3 separate regions of the Homo sapiens genome follow, and all the other regions are linked to region 3. Evidence: fine-mapped expression QTL. A gene starts in region 3. Each other region holds a variant in brackets. All regions are shown on one strand. Distances are from middle to middle.

Region 1 (5,724 bases), 79 kb after region 3:
ACTATAAAACGTTGAAAAGATAATAAAACCTAAATAATTGGGATGACATCCCATGTTCATTGGTTAGAAAATGTAATATTGGTAAGTTGGCAGTAATATCCAAAGTATTTACCAAATCATCTTTTTCAAAATCCTATCTGCCCTTTTATGCACAAATTGACAAGCAGATGAATTCTGAAATTCCCATGGAAATGTAAAGGATCCAGAATAGCCAAAAGAATCTTGAAAAAGAAGAACAGAGTTAGAGAACTCACACTTTCCAATTTCAAAACTTACTATACAAAGCTACAGTTTTTAATACATGTGACACAGGTATATTGATAGCTATATAGATCAGTGGAATAGAACTGCAAGTCCAAAAATAAATTCAAACATTTATGGTCAGTTGATTTTCAACAAGGGTGCCAAGACAATTCAGTGGGAAAAGAATAGTCTTTTCAATCAGTGGTGCTGGGACAACTGGATATCTACATGCAAAAGAATAAATTTAGACATCTACCTCATACTATATACAAAGATTACTCAAAAGTTAATCAAAGACCTAAATGTATCAGCTAATATTATAAAACTCTCAGACATAAACATAGGTGAGCCCAGTGCCATGACACATGCCTGTAATCCCAGCTCCTCAGGGGGCTGAGGGGGAAGCTCCCTTGAGTCCAGGAATTTGAGACCAGCCTGGGCAACATAGCAAGACTCTGTCTCTAAAAAACAAAAAGGAGAAATAAACATAGATGTATAAATCTTCATAGCTGTGGATTGGGTAATGGATTCTTAGATATGACATCTAAAGCACAAGCAAGCTAAGAAAAAATAGTTAAACTTCATCAGGCCAGCCATGGAGGCTCACTCCTGTAATCCCAACACGTTGGGAGGCCAAGACGAGAAGATTGCTTGAGCTCAGGAGTTTGAGACCAGCCTGGGCAACATAGCTAGGAGACCTTATCTCTACTTACAAAAAAAAAAATTAGTTGGGTGTCGTGATGTGTGCCTGTAAGTCCCAGCTATTTGGGAGGTTGAGGCTTGAGGAGCTGGAGGATTGCTTGAGATCAGGAGATTGAGGCTGCAGTGAGCTATGATGGCACCAGTGCACTCCAGCCTGGGTGACAGAGCAAGACTGTCTCAAAAAAAAAATTAAAAACTTTTGTGCTTCAAAGGACATTATCTTGAAAGTGAAGGCAACCCACAGGGACAAAGTATTCACAAGTTTTATATCTGATAAGGGTCTTGTATTTAAGATGTATAAAGAACTCTTAGAACTCAGTAATAAGAAGCCTGCAAAATAAAAAGGTCTGCAAATATTTTCTCCCAGTCTTTTCATCCTAACAGGGTCTTTTGTAGAACAAAAGTTTTTTAATTTGATCAAGTCCAGTTTATCCATTTTTTCCTTTGGTTTCTTTGCTTAGGTTGTGCTTTGGTTGTGCTTAGGTTGTGTTTCTGCTTAGGCTGCGTGTGTCTTTTGTGTCTATGAATGTGTAGTGCTCTAACATCATTTGTTGAAAAGGCTTTCCTTCTGCCATTGAAATGCTTTTTGCACCTTTGTCAAAATTAGTTGGCTATCTGATAAGGGAGTTCAGTCTAAAATATATAAAGAACTCTTACCACTTAATAATAAAAAGAAACCAACTAATAAATTGACAAAGGACTTAATAGGCATTTCTCCAAAGAAGATATGTGGTGGTCAATAAGCACGGCATCATTAGTCATTAAGGAAATGACCCATTTACACCCATTATGATAACTATAGTAAAAAAGACAAGAATAAGTATTGGTGATGATATGGAGAAATTACAACCCATACGTACTGCTGGTAGGAACGTAAAATGGTGCAGCCGCTTTGGAAATCGGTTTGGTAGCTCCTCAAAAAGGTAAACATAGAGTTACCATATGACCCAGCAATTCCACTCCTTGATACATACCCAAAAGAACGTAAACAAGGACTCAGCCAGATACTTGTACACCAGTGTTTATAGCAGTATTGTCCACAATAGCCAAAAGGTAGAAACAACCCAGGTGGCCATCAATAGATAAATGGGTAAACAAAATGCGGTACATACATACAGTGGAATATTATTCAGCCATGAAAATGAGTGAAGTACTGATATATGTTACAATATAGATGAACCTTGAAGACATTATGCTAAGGGAAAGAAGCCAAACATGAAATATTACATATTGTATGGTTCCATTTATATGAAATGTCCCGAGTAGACAAATCCATCAATAAAGAAAGTAGATTAGTGGTTGGTTGCCAGAGATTGGGGAAAGGGGAGAATGGGGAATGACTGCCTATGAATATGGGCTTGTTTTGGGGGGTGGGTGGGTGGCATTTGATGCAAATGTTCTGGAATTAGATTGTAAAGATGGCTGCACATATATACCTAAAAACTGCTGAATTGTACTGTTACTTAAAGGAGTGAATATTATAGTAGATTAATTGTATCTCAGTTTTTTAATGGTGATGGGAAGTCACACTGGAGAAACAATCTCATTGAATACTGGAAACAAAAGTTTATTTGCAAAATATGAACTGTAAAGGAAAGTTGTAAAATGAGTTTGGCTCTTAGGGAGCTTCTAGGAAGTCATCTGAGGCTTTTCTCTTTTTGTGATTGCCATTGACTTTGGTCACCTTTAGCATTTAACGTGTCAGAGTTTGTCTTGTTTTTTCTCAGGTGGCTATAGTTTTAGGATCTGTTTATTCAGAACATAATAGCACATTATACCATTAATAGTAACTCCATTTTGGGGCTGGGCGCAGTGGCTCACACCTGTAATCCCAACACTTTGGGAGGCTGAGTCAGGCGGATCACAAGGTCAAGAGATCGAGAGCATCTTGGCCAACATGGTGAAACCCTGTCTCTACTAAAAATATAAAAAATTAGCCGGGTATGGTTGGCATGCACCTGTAGTCCCAGCTATTCGGGAGTCTGAGGCAGGAGACTCACTTGAACCCAGGAGGCGGAGGTTGCGGTGAGCTGAGATCGCACCACTGCACTCCAGCCTGGCGACAGAGCAAGACTCCATCTCAAAAAGAAAAAAAGAAACTCCTGTTTGGAAAGGCTACTAATCTAATTTTGGATCCTGGAAAAATAAGTGAATAAAAATAAGCAACTCATCCAACCTGTGCTTCAACAGGATCAGTGCTAAATCTCCAGAGGACAGTCCTGACCCTGTGTCGGAAGGCGGGGCTGAGAGGAAAACTGGCTGTTGAAGGCCAGAGGGCCAATCACACAGTCTAGGAGATGGGAGCATCATTCCCTCTTTACAGGTGGGAAGCTGAGGCCCAAAAAGATACCACTAGGCTGAAACTGCTG[G/A]ATTTTTACCTTTACCCACAGCTTGTTCTCAGCCTCCCTTCAGAGGACAAAAATGGGCTTGCAAACAGTACTTCCATTATAAAATGTAGACATCAATAAAAACAGCTGGCATTGGTAGACTGCCTTACTGTGTCCTTAACCCTACCCCCCAAGCTGAGCTGATGACAGCCGTGTGTAGGGTGGGACAGGCCATGTCCTTATTGTACAGATGAAGGAACAGAGCTCTGTGAGGAATCCTGAGGGCAGAGGCCACACAGCTAGTGTGTCTGAGCCAAGGCCAGCCACCTGTCCTGCTCTCCTCCCTGCTCCCCTGCCATCTTGGTAGGGATGCTGAGTCCAACAGAGCACAGTTATCCATTCTCCTCCTGTGAAGGTCCTGTCTGTCATACACACAAGGCCCTGAAAGCTACCTCAGCAAGGATGTTTAAAAACCAACATGGCACGGTTCACTGGGCACCAAGAGCCACATGTCCTGCCTGGATCATGTTACATAATCTAAGAAGACTGGGTTACGTGTTATAGGTTAAGAAACTAGTAACAGCAAAGCCATCAACAGTCCAGGCTAGAAATGGTGATGGCCTGAACCAGGATCCTTGGGAATGGACAGGGAAGCAAGTAGGGAGAAAGGAGTTCAACCACTGGGCAGGAGAAAGCAATGGCACAACAGCACATCAGTGCAACAGACCTGGGTCCCAGCCAGGCCTGGCCACTCTCCAATTAAATGGCCTCAAGCAACATTATTTTCCTGAGCTTCTGTTTCCTCATCGGTAAAATGGGTCAGTGTGGTGACACATGGTATCCACGGGCCCTGGTGAATGCCCAGGAAAGTGTTGGAACCCAGCCCCTGGGTACGATGGCAAAGGCCTCTCTCCAAGCCATGGAGACTAGTCATTGGCTGAGAGCAGTCCTGGTCCCATCTGCACATGTTCATGAGTTAACTGAGTCTTCAGTAACTTTTTATATGACAGAGACACTGACAGAAGGACAGTGCCAAAGTGGGAGGCCCCAGGAACTATAAATAGCATGTTACTGCAAGCTGTGCATAAAAACAGGAGAAAAGATTGCCAGGGCTTGAGCGGTCCCTTTCAGTGAGTGCTTGGGAGCCAGGCTGTGCTGCTGACAAGGTGGAGAACCCAGAGAGCCTCAGCTCTTTCGGCACACCAGGAAAGGGACAGCAGGCTAAGCTGGCAGATGTGAGAGTAACCCTCCCTCGGTCCCACACTTCTGATGCACTGAAGTAAAGGCAGCTGCCTCTTGCTTTCTGTCTTCTCCCATCTGCCCACCTCCTTGAAGATATGGGACAGGAAGAGCAGGAGACATTCATCTATTTTGGCCTGTTTCTTTTCAGTCATTTATTCATTCATTTCTTTTTTTTTTAAGATAAGAGTCTCATGAGTCCCTTCAAACGGTTGAGCCTTTAGGAGCCTGCACTCTACTTTGTACCTGGGAGGGTACTTAACAGACACTTGGCTTCATTTGTGCATTTGTCTTTCAGCTCTGTGCAGTGTGCCTAGAAGACTTCAAGCCTCGAGATGAGTTGGGGATTTGCCCATGTAAGCACGCCTTCCACAGAAAGTAAGTATTGGTATGGAATTACTTAATGGGACCCGAGTTTGAGGCACATCAACCAACTTCTTTTGGGTTTTAGGGCAGTGCCAGACAAGCTTGATGGCTTCATGATTGGTCTGTAATGCAGAAAGCTGACAGCACCCTACAGGTGGGATGTGTGTGTGTGTGCGTGACATTAGGAGACAGCAGAGTGGTGGAACGTGACCACCACGTCAGGACTATGGGCAGAGAGCCAAAATGAGCCTACACTTGGAGCCCAAGCAATAAACAGCTATTTAGCTGGAACTTTCCACTGAGAGCCTCATCTCCTAAAAACTTATTTAAATCAAAACCATAGTTATTTAAAATCAAAATAAAGTCTGGATATAAATGGTAGTGTGGGGCACTCTCCTCCCACTTCCTGCAGACATATTAATATTCTTCCTCTTATAATTTTTTGTTTTGTATTTCTGTTAGAAAAATTTATTTTCCTACTTCTCACATCCCTGCTCAGTGTATTTTGTTCTTGTAAGAAGTCATGGGTAACTGAGAGTATCACATACTATCTGTGGCTTCACACGTGGAAGATGGGAGGCTCTGGAAGGAAGAGGGGATTGCTGACCCCTTGGCCTCTCCCCACTCCTTCTCTCTGTCTCTTCCCTCTCTCCAGGGGGTGACATCCGTTCACCACCTAGGAGGGGAGCTCCTTGGACCATACAGCAGACGTTGTCTGGGTGACAGATATGGAGATGTTCAGCAGAACAGCCGTGCCATGAGCATAGGACTGACATCTTCCCCCTGTGGTGTCTCCTTCTGCAGGTGCCTTATTAAGTGGCTGGAGGTTCGTAAAGTGTGTCCCCTG
Region 2 (5,724 bases), 63 kb before region 3:
ATTTCTTATCAGAAACCCTAAAGTCCAGAAGAGAGTGGCACATTTCTTTTCTAGTGCTGAAAAGAAAAAAAGGAACTCTCAACCCAGAATTCTATATCCAGTAAAAAGATTATTCAAGAATGACGGGAATCCAGATGTTCTCAGATTAGGAGAACCAGGAGAATTTGTTGTCAGCACCTGCCATTTAGGAATGACTAAAAAGAAGTTGTCTAAACAGAAAGGAAATGATGAACAAAGGAATTTTTCTTTTTTCTTTTTTTTTTTTTTTGTTGAGACAGAGTCTCGTTCTGTCACCAGGCTGGAGTGCAGTGGTGCAATCTCAGCTCACTGCAACATCTGCCTCCCAGATTCAAGCGATTCTTCTGTCTCAGCCTCCTGAGTAGCTGGGACTACAGGCACACGCCACCATGCCCGGCTAAATTTTTTGTATTTTTAGTAGAGACGGGATTTCACCATATTGGCAAGGCTGGGCTCGAACTCCTGACCTCATGATCCACCAGCCTCGACCTCCCAAAGTGCTGGGATTACAGGCGTGAGCCACCACACCTGGCTGAATGAAGGATCTTAGAACAACAGTAAAGAAGAAAGAACAATGAAAAGCACAAAAATATGGATAAATACAACAGACTTTCCTTATCCTCTTGAGTTTTCTTTCTTTCTTTCTTCCTTTCTTTTTTTTTTTTTTTTTTAGATGGAGTCTTGCCCTGTCGCCAGGCTGAAGTGCAATGGCGTGATCTTGGCCTCCCGAGTTCGAGCGATTCTCCTGCCTCAGCCTCCCAAGTAGCTGGGACTACAGGCACGCGCCACCAGGCCCAGCTAATTTTTGTATTTTTAGTAGAGTCGGGATTTCACCACGTTGGCCAGCATGGTCTCGATCTCTTGACCTCATGATCCACCTGCCTCGGCCTCCCAAAGTGCTGGGATTACAGGCATGAGCCACCGTGCCAGGCCTCTTCTTTAGATACAGTGATGGGGTCTCACTATATTACCCAGACTGGTCTTGAACTCTTAGGCTCAAGCAGTCCTCCTGCCTCGGCCTCTCAGTGTTGGGATTACAGGCATGAGCCTCTTGATTTTTCTAAATTATGTTTGACAGTTAAAGTAAAAAATGTACTTTGGGATGCCAACGCGGGCGGATCACCTGAGGTCAGGACTTCAAGACCATCCTGGCCAACATGGTGAAACCCCGTCTCTACTAAAATTACAAAAATGAGTTGGGCGTAGTGGTGCACACCTGTAATCCCAGCTACCTGGGAGGCTGAGGCAGGAGAATCACTTGAACCCGGGAGGCAGAGGTTGCAGTGAGCCGAGATCGCACCATTGCTCTCCAGCCTGGGCGACAAGAGTGAGACTTCGTCTCAAAAAAAAAAAAAAAAAGGCCGGGCGTGGTAACTAATGCCTATAATCCCAGCATTTTGGGAGGCCAAGGCAGGCGGACCACGAGGTCGGGAGTTTGAGACCAGCCTGGCCAACATGGTGAAACCCCATTTCTACTAAAGATATAAAAAATTAGCTGGGCATGGTGGCATGCACCTGTAATCCCAGCTACTCGGGAGGCTGAGGGAGAAGAATCACTTGAACCCGGGAGGCGAAGGTTGCAGTGAGCCGAGATCGTGAGATCGCACCATTGCACCCCAGACTGGGTGACAGGGCAAGACTCTATCTCAAAAAATAAATAAATAAATAAAGCAAAAATTATAACACCGTATGATGTGGTTCTCAACAAATATAAATATTTAAGACAATTATATTAGAAATGGAAGAAAGTAATGCGATGTTAGGAAGGTAGGTTTTACACTTCACTTGAACTAGTTAAATGTTAATACTCATAGATAGTGTGACTTGAAAGATTTGAAATCACATAGAGTGTGTTCTCTGACCACAATCGAATACATACAGAGACAGAGATACGAATATAGATAGATATTTGAATAGACAGATATAAATATAGATAGCTATATATCTAGAACAACTACTGAAAAGGGTATACAAGAGATATACACTCACAAACACTATCGATAAATCAAAATGAATGAAAACATTCAAGTGTCCCGTAGAAAGGCAGGAAAGAAAAAACAAAGAGAACAATAGAAAACTTAAAAATTTAATGGCTGACTTAATTCCTAACATATAAATAATTCCATTAAATATAAATTTACCCAAGCATACCAATTAAAATACAGAGATTGACAGAGAGGATTTAAAACATGACCCAACTATATGCTATCTACACAGAACTCATTTCAAATGTAACAATATAGGTAAATTGAAAGTTAAAAGATGGCTAGGCGTGGTGGCTCACACCTGTAATCCTGGCCATTTGGGAGGCTGAGGCAGGAGGATCACTTGAGCCCAGGAGTTTGATGCTGCAGGGAGCTATGATTGTGCCACTGCACTCTAGCTTGGGTGACAGAGTGAGACCCTGTCTCTAAATAAAAATTTAAATTTAAATTTAAAAATTAAAAAGATCAGTTTTACACCACAAACATAAATCAAAAGAAAGCGAGAGTGGCTATATTGATGTCAGACAACGCGACTTCAGAGCAAAGAAAATTACCAAGGCCATTCTACAATGATAAAATGGTCAATCCACCAAGAAGGCATAGCAATCCTAAATGTGTATGCACAAAACAACAGAGCTGCAACATATGTGAAGCCAAACTTGATCAAATTGAAAAGAGAAATAGACAAATGCATTATTGTAGTTGGAGAATTCATTTTTCTCTCAGCAATTGATAGAGCAACCAGACAGAAAATCAGCAAAGATATAGAAGACACCAACAATACCATCAAACAACAGAATCCAGCTGACATTTATAGAACACTCCACCCAAAAATAGCAGAAACCACATTCTTTTCAAGCACCCAGGGAACATATATCAAGATAGGCCATATCCTGGACCATAAAATACACCTCAACAAATGTAGAAGAATTGAATCATACTGTGTTTTCTGACCACATGGAACAAATAACAGAAAGGTAACAGGAAAATCTCCAAACACTTGGAAATAAAACAATACACTTTAATCCTTGGGTTAAAGAGGAGGCTCATGGGAAATTAAAAAAAATACAGTGAACTAAATGAAAATGAAAATACGACGTACCAAAATGTGTGGGACACA[C/T]TTAAAACAGTGTTAAGGGGGAATTTGTGAAACTAAATGTTTACATTAGAAATGAGGAAAAAACTCAAATCAATAATCTAATCTCCCATCTCAAGAAACTAGAAAAAGAAGAGCAAAATAAACCCAAATTCAGCAGAAATCAGGAAATAATAAGAGCAGAAATCAATGAAAGTAAAAACAGAAAACAATATAGAAAAGCAATAAAACAAAAAGTTGATTCCTTGACAAGATCAATAAGATGGACAAACCTCTAGCAAGACTGACAAAAGAAAAAAGAAAGAAAACACAAGTTACGAATTTCAGGAAAGAAACAGGTATCTGTTGTTATCACTGAACACCCCAAAGACATTAAAAAAAGAATAAGATAATACTACCAACGCTACACACATACATTTAACAACTTCAATGAAATTGACAAATTCCTCAACAACCGCAAACAAGCACAATTTGCCCAATATGAAGTGAATAATTTGAGTAGCCCTTTCACTCTAAGGAAAATTGAATTCAAATTTTTAAGACTATTAAAATGAAAGAAGAAATCTTCAACCCTGATGATTTCACTGGCGAATTATACCAAATGTTTAAAGAAAAATTAACACCAGTTCTACACAATCTCTTCCAGAAAATAGAAGAAGAAAGCATGTTTCCTAATTCATTTTATGTAGCCAATATTACTCTAATACCAAAACAAGGCAAAGTACAAAAAAGAAAACCATAGTCCAATATCCCCAATGAATACAGATGAAAATGTCCTTAACAAAATATTAACTAATAGAATTCAGCAATATACTAAAATACACACATATACACATTATGTATAATAAACATATTAAAGAGAGAGATTATAACCAGATGAGGCTTATTCCAGGTATTAATGGCTTGTTCAGTATTAAAAATAAATCACTGTAACTCATCATATCAATAGGCTAAAGAAGAATTATATCTGCTGGGCGCGGTGGCTCACGCCTGTAATCCCAGCACTTTAGGAGGCCGAGGCAGGCAGATCATGAGGTCAGGAGATCGAAACCATCCTGGCTAACACTGTGAAACCCGGTCTCTACTAAAAAAAAAAATACAAAACATTAGCCAGGCGTGGTGGTGGGCACCTGTAGTCCCAGCTACTCGGGAGGCTGAGGCAGGAGAATGGCATGAACCCGGGAGGTGGAGCTTGCAGTGAGCCAAGATCGCACCACTGCACTCCAGCCTGGGTGACAGAGCGAGACTCCGTCTCACCAAAAAAAAAAAAAAAAAAAAAAAAAAAAGCATAAAACTATAAAACTTTTAGAAGAAAACATAAAAATCATCAGGACCTAGGGCTTAGTGAAGAGTTCTTATACATGACACCTGTTCCATGAAAGGGCCGCACATGCAAAGCAGTCCTCAAATGCCAAAGAAGCCAAGAAACCAAAGAAGGAGGCAGGCAAATCCCATTTGTCAGTATAAGGTGGCTTATTAGGGGCAACTTATAGACAGAAGTCTGGTCTTGGGCCACCACAAGACAGGTAGATCTCTACACCACACCTCCCCAGGCAGGGGGCTTACATCTTGGGGGAAAAGTATACGTGCTCTGAAAGGAATGTGTAGTTGGCTATGAGTGTCACAGCCTATGACTTCTGCAACAGCATCAAGAGCTGTTTTGGAGGAAACTTACAATCATTAGGTGTTTCCACATAAAGAGTAATACATCAGCTAGACATGTTGGAGGCATTCCCGGACTTGTGGTTAGTCACTGGATTAGCATTTAAAATAAAGCCTCTCTTGTCCCCACAACATCGAAATCAATAAATTGGAATTCATCAAAATGAATAAACTTTTCTCTACAAAAGGCCCTCTTAAGAAGATAAAAACACAAGCTACACCTAGGAAAAAATATTTGCAGACCACGTATCTGACAAAGGATGTGTATCAGAATATAGAAAGACTCTCGAAACTCAACAGTTAAAAAAAAACCAAATAATCTAATTAGAAAATAGGCAAGAGATATGAGGAGATATTTTATCGAAGAGGCTATACAATGGCAAATAAGCACATGAAAAGATCCTCGACATCATTAGTCTTTAGGAAAATGCAAATTAAGACCATGATGATATATCCCTACACACCTATTAGAAGAGCTAAAAATTAAAAATAGTGAACATATCGAATACTTGAGAGGATGTGAAGGAACTGAATCTCTCACCCATTACTAGTGAAAATATAAAATGATAGAGCCACTCCGGATAATGGTTGAGCAGTTTCTTTAAAAACTAAACATAAAGTGACCATACAGCCCAGCAATGCACTTGTGGGCATTTATCCCAGAGAAATAGGGCTATGGCCACACAAGTACCAGAATGGAAACAACCAAAATGTTTTACAATAAGTGAATGATTGAACAAACTGTGGTATATTTACACCAGAGATTACCACCCAAAATTAAACTATTGACACATGCATCAACCTGGATGGATCTCAAGGGCACGAATCTGAGTGGGGAAAAGAAAATCACGAAAGGTCACATACTGTATGCTTCGATTTATATAACATTCTCAAAATGACAAAACTATGGAGAACGCATTAGTGGTTACCAGTGCTTAGGGATGGTGGGGAGAGAGGAGGGTG
Region 3 (5,724 bases):
AGTTGGGCCAGTTGATGACACAGCAAAATTTTAATAAGATGAGTCTCCCTGAAAACAGCAACTGGACACGGCCCCTCCTCCTTCCGTTCATTCTCTCATTCTCTTTCCCACTCACCCCTAATTTTTTCAAGAACAAAAGACATGAAATGAGCCACTCCATCCTCTACCCTACAGCCTGATTGGACTAGTGAATTACTAGCCAAGCTTTCTAAACAAACAAACAAAACAGGTTTCCAAACGCAGGGCAGAGGAAGGAAGCCAAAATAAGGAAGAAGAAAGAAAAGGAGCTCAGCCTTTCCTTCTCCTGTGGAGCCTCCCCAGCCCACCAGGGAACATCACCTCCACCAATAGCCACAGCAGACCCACTATGTGCCAGTCACATATTAGGTCCTGGGAGATACTGATCCTGCTGATGAAGGACTCACATGCTGGTGTGGTAAGAAAATATGCAAATGAGCAGGGACCTTGGAGGGTGCCTAGTGCTGAGAGGGAAGTGGGTACAGGGCACAGGTGGGGATTCTCAAGGAAAGTCTGTCAATAAGTGGGGGCAGAAAAAAATACTTTATCAAAAATGACTTTGTAAATACTTTACTTTTTTTTAGAGCAGTTTTAAGTTTGCCACAAAAGTGAGAGGAATGTGCAGAGTTCCCAACTAGCCCTTCCCCCCTACACATACATAGCCCCCCCATTATAAACATTCTCCCACGGGAGCATTTATTACTATTGTTGGACCTACATTGGCACATCATTATCACCCAAAATCCATGTTTACATTAGAGTTTGCTGCTGGTATTATTCATTCTATGGATTTAGACAAATGTGTCATGACAGGTATCCACCATTATGGTATCATACACAGAGTATTTTCACTGCCCTAAAAAGCATCTGTGGATTTTCAGAGAAAAGAGCAACTTTTGCATGCTAGGTAAGTATTGCTTTCCTAGTAGGGGAACAGCAGGAAACAGCAGTCACCTTGGTGACTACTGAGGTGAAACACCATGGTGCTGTTCTGTAAATGGCTGGAAAATAAGGCTCAAGGAGCCAGATGGGGCAGGGAAAAAGAAAAAGACAGAAACACAGGCAGATTTGAATACCATGAGAATCGATTTGCATGAGAATGGATTGAGACTTCTGCAACAGCCCAGGGGAGAGATGAGGGGGCTGATTTAGAACAGTGAGAGGTTTGAGCAAAGCAAAGTTGAAAAGACCCTCCAGGTAACTGCTATGATTGACAGCAAGGAGGGCAGTGTTCCCCCAGCACAGCCCTGGCACAGGCAGCTCTAGAGGAAGCCTGGGTCTCCCACTCCCTTCCTTTTGCCACAGTCTCCCTAGCACATGCCTCCACCCTTCTCTCACTTTGGGGGACTGTGACCATTGGGTGGCAGGTGACTTCTTGAGAAATTCACTAATGTTTCCCTCTTTACTTCCTCCCTGCCTTGGTGGTTAATGGTTTGCCAAAGCAGAAGGAACATGCCTCTAGGCGCTTGCCATGATGACTTTTGCTTCCCAAAGTTAAGCTACTGAGCTGTTTATGGTTTATGTGATGGGGCCTGAGAGATTAGGAGAAGGAAGGAGAACTTCTGGGGGACACATGGAGACTGAGGAAGAGGGGGCAATCATTTTTGCAAGCTCTGAGCTGCAGCGCACACACAGTCAGCTGTGGAGCTTCACAGCCATTCCCTCTGCAGGCTCCTAGCCTCTCCAGAAACTTCCGTACCCCAGGAGTGGCAGACACAAGGCGATGGGAACAAGAGAGTATCTGCAGAATACACTGCCTGCTAAAGACAAGAGAGGACTCCCCAGATCCTTGCCTTGGTATTGCAGGAAGAGCTCAGCCTCCCAAAATCGGAGGTCAATTTATTGCCTGCCCTGTAGAATGGGAGCCGGAGGTTGAGGAGTGGATGTAAATAAAGGAATGCACTGTTTCTTGCACACACCTCTCTCCACTATCTGGGCAGAGTCTAGGTCTCATCCATCACCAAGGTTCTAGCACTCAGCTGAGAGGCTGCAGCAGGAGGGGCAGATGGAGGAGGGTGCGGTGCATACCATCTCCCCATCAAACCAATGGGCACCACGTGACCATTCTTGTGTCTCTGGGGACTGTCAATCTGCATGCTAGGAAAGGGGTGGCATTCCAATCTTTCATTTTTTTGTGTGTGAGACGGAGTCTTGCTCTGTCACCCAGGCTGGAGTGCAATGGTGCGATCTTGGCTCACTGCAACCTCCGCTCCCCGGGTTCAAGAGATTTTCCTGCCTTAGCCTCCCGAGTAGCTGGGATTACAGGCATGAGCCACCACACCCAGCTAATTTTGTATTTTTAGTAGAGACAGAGTTTCTCTATGTTGGTCAGGCTGGTCTGGAACTCCTGACCTCAGGTGATCCACCCGCCTTGGCCTCCCAAAGTGTTGGGATTACAGGCGTGAGCCACTGCGCCCGGCCCCATGCTTTCACTTTTAAAAATGCTTGTAGGGCACGCAAAAATACTAAACGGTCGATGGAGAAGGTCTGTCTGGAGTAGTTGTTTTTTTTTTTTTTTTTTGAGACAGAGTCTCGCTCTGTCGCCCAGGCTGGTGTGCAGTGGCACGATCTCGGCTCACTGCAAGCTCCGCCTCCCAGGTTCAGGCGATTCTCCTGCCTCAGCCTCCCAAGTAGCTGGGACTACAGGCGCCCGCCACCACACCCGGCTAATTTAATTTTTTGTATTTTTAGTAGAGACGGGGTTTCATCGCGTTAGCCAAGATGGTCTCGATCTCCTGACCTCGTGATCTGCCCGCCTCAGCCTCCCAAAGTGCTGGGATTACAGGCGTGAGCCACCTCGCCCGGCCTGTCTGGCGTAGTTCTAACCAGGAACAGAGCCAGCGGCCAGGGCCGCACCAGGCCTGGCCAGGGAGCGCCGCGCCTGCGCACTGCAGACTCTGAAGCCGCCGAGCCCTCCGCCGAGGTGGGTGGGGAAACTGCCCGGGCATCCGGGTCCCTCACCCCGCCCCCGCTGCATGAATGAGAGGCGCGGCGCCCGCCCCTCCCCCGGCGGGCCCGCCCCTCGCGAGGGGCCGCCGGGCGCAGTCAGCCGCCGCCACCTCCGCCGCGCTCTGTCCGGACGGACGCTCGCCGCCCGCAGCCTGCCGCCCGCCGCAGGGCGCTGACGGTCCCGCACGTCTGCCGCTGCCACCGGCGCGCCCGAGTAAGTGAGCGAGCGAGGGCGGGAGCGCCGCGGCCGCCGCCCCCGGGCTGGGGTTTGGGGGACCGAGCCGCTCCGGGTTCGGGATGCTGAGGAGACCGCGGGCCCGCGCCAGCCTCCCACACACACACACTCTCCCGGCGCCTCGGCCGGCCGGGCGCGGTGTGCAGGGGTGAGGCGGTGTCTCCAGGCTGAGGAGGGACGCGGAGGAGGGTCCGGCGCGGCCCCGGGACTGGAGGGTGAGTCCCTCACAAAGGGCGGAGCGGGGCTGTCACCTGGAGATCACGGAGGGAAGGTGCGTGGGCCCCCGCACGTCCTGCTCGCCCAAGCCCTGGCATCGGGTCCCCGGGCGTGGGAGGCGGCTGGGATGAGCTGGGAGGCTAGGAGGAGGATGGCGAGGACGCTGCCCCCGCGTTGGCGGTGGGCGCGCGCCTTGGGGGGTGCGGCGTGGCAGTGTTTTCCTGGTCCCCGTCCACTCCTCCCCTTTCTTTGTGGCGCTTGTCTCGTGCCCCGTTGTCACAGTGTGCATGGCAGTGGTCGGGGTGGAGACCTCTTCCCTCGGCTTACTCATTAATGAAAGTCACCATCTGTGGGCAGGGGGCGTGTGTGGTTCCACAGGCCGGAGAATTAAGGACCCTCCTTTGTTTCTGGAGACCTAATGATGTGTGTGTGTGTGTGTGTGTGTGTGTGTGTGTGTGTGCGCATTCAAGTGAAAGGGACATCTATGAAATGAGAGAATCAGAGATTGTCAAAAAGGGTATGAGGAAAAGGGGAGGGGATATAACTTCATCACACCTTTACCCAATTCTTTACCTGATGTTATTTCAAACAGTTTTTTCTCACTGTAAAACCAGTGGGTTTTATTCATTGGAAATGTGCATCTAAATTCTCATATATCTGTGTTTCTAGAATACTTTGCCTTTTTGGGCTTAGTTAATGGTAAGATTCTCATGTCTGTCTACATAGGAATACTCCACCGTACAGGACACTGCTTTCTGGGTTTAGTTCATTGATAATTTGTCCGAATGCTCATAAACATGTCTATAGGAATACTCCAATATATCTAGGACACAGTTTTCTCCGCTCCTGAATACAGGCAGATTTTGTTTCTTTCTGCCTCCCTGTGTTAATGAGAAGGTAGTCCAGCAGGTTCTCTCTACCTCCTTGCTTTTTTTTCCCCTTAATGCTTTGGCAGAGGGTTTTATTGCATATTACCCTGGCATGCGCCCTTGCTTTGATGTGAATTTTCCTGTGTTCTGTTGTCTGGTTGTACAGCCCAGCTCAATGGCTCCTCTTACAGGACTACTGGAAAACAGAACACCTTTTTTCATTGTCCTCATCTCCAGAGAGAGAAGGAAGCGCTGTAGGTTCCCACAAACGTTGACTCTGTCAGACTGCCTGCCTGACTTTGTTGTGTTGGTAAAGTTATGAAGAGTTGCAGTTGTTGTAGACCAATTAAAAAGAGGCTATTGGGATAACACCAGCTCTTCCTTGCTATTTTGGTTTTAAAACAAATGATATGAATTTTGCAAGATAGTTGTTAACTCTGGTTGCATGATGATTTTCAGTTTCTTTTTACCCATATACTTTTACAGGGTGTTGGGAAATTAGCCACTCATTTACAAGAAACACACCTCCAAGGTATTTTTATTATGGGTCGGGTGCGGTGGCTCACACCTGTAATCCCAGCACTTTGGGGGGCCGAGGTGGGTGGATCACCAGAGGTCAGAAGTTTGAGACCAGCCTGGCCAACATGGTGAAACCCTGTCTCTACTAAAAAAATACAAAAAATTAGCCGGGCATGGTGGCGAGCGCCTGTAATTCCAGCTACTCGGGAGGCTGAGGCAGGAGAATCGCTTGAACTCCCGGAGGCGGAGGTTGCAGTGAGCCTAGATCGCGCCATTGCATTCCAGCCTGGGCAACAAGAGCGAAACTCCGTCTGAAAAAAAAGCTATTTTTATTATGATCTTTGGATTCAAAATAGCGGTTTTAAAAAATTAAGAGGCGCTTATATTGGATGATATGAATAATTGTATGGGTTCTGTTTTCTTTAAGATTCTCTGTAATATTTTTAAAAATCACATGTATTTTAATTCCTAGTAGTTTTCAGTGGAAAATGAAATGTAAACTAAGCAGTCTTCCACAGCATCTGTTTATGTATATTCCCTCTGTTTAAAACATTTGCTTTTAATTTGAAGGGGAAATTTTCCATGGTCAGTTCAGGATACATTATTCTTAGTAAAATTCTTACCACGTTCAAATTCTTTTTTGTAAGAGTAAAAAAAAATTAATGAAAGTTGATTTTTCAATTGGGGATGTTTTGGTTTTAATGCATGATTTAAATAAAATCTTAATATCAATTAATTTAATTCAGATAAGTTAATTTAAAACAAGGCTTTTATGAAGGAAAAATGAAGCAGAAAAAAAAAAACAAGAGCTTTACTAACTAAAGTCACTAATGTTGAAGTAACCCAGTACATTTATAAACTGCCTGTCTTGACTGCATAAGACATTTTTTAGGAGTCTCCTTAAAACAAACCGTAAGG

The links. PIP is the estimated chance that this variant, and not a neighbour inherited with it, causes the effect. A credible set is the group of variants that fine-mapping cannot tell apart.
Region 1: its variant is the best candidate, but not a certain one, in a credible set for the expression of RNF24 in whole blood (INTERVAL, PIP 0.81).
Region 2: its variant is the best candidate, but not a certain one, in a credible set for the expression of RNF24 in whole blood (INTERVAL, PIP 0.86).

Annotation. Positions count from the first base shown.
Region 1 is chr20:3,934,159-3,939,882 of GRCh38, reverse strand. It overlaps RNF24 (ring finger protein 24), which reads left to right. Exons shown (of 6, transcript NM_001134337.3): 5 at 4,810-4,889; 6 at 5,682-5,724. Among named protein-coding and RNA genes, the nearest start is that of MIR103B2, 19 kb to the right of the region's middle. RefSeq lists an enhancer at 3,474-3,623. The variant G/A (reference allele first, on the strand shown) is at 3,315.
Region 2 is chr20:4,075,910-4,081,633 of GRCh38, reverse strand. No RefSeq gene overlaps it. Among named protein-coding and RNA genes, the nearest start is that of RNF24, 63 kb to the right of the region's middle. The variant C/T (reference allele first, on the strand shown) is at 3,124.
Region 3 is chr20:4,012,894-4,018,617 of GRCh38, reverse strand. RNF24 (ring finger protein 24) reads left to right here and starts at 3,060. Exons shown (of 6, transcript NM_001134337.3): 1 at 3,060-3,181. RefSeq lists enhancers at 1,333-1,934, 2,138-3,070 and a silencer at 2,954-3,553.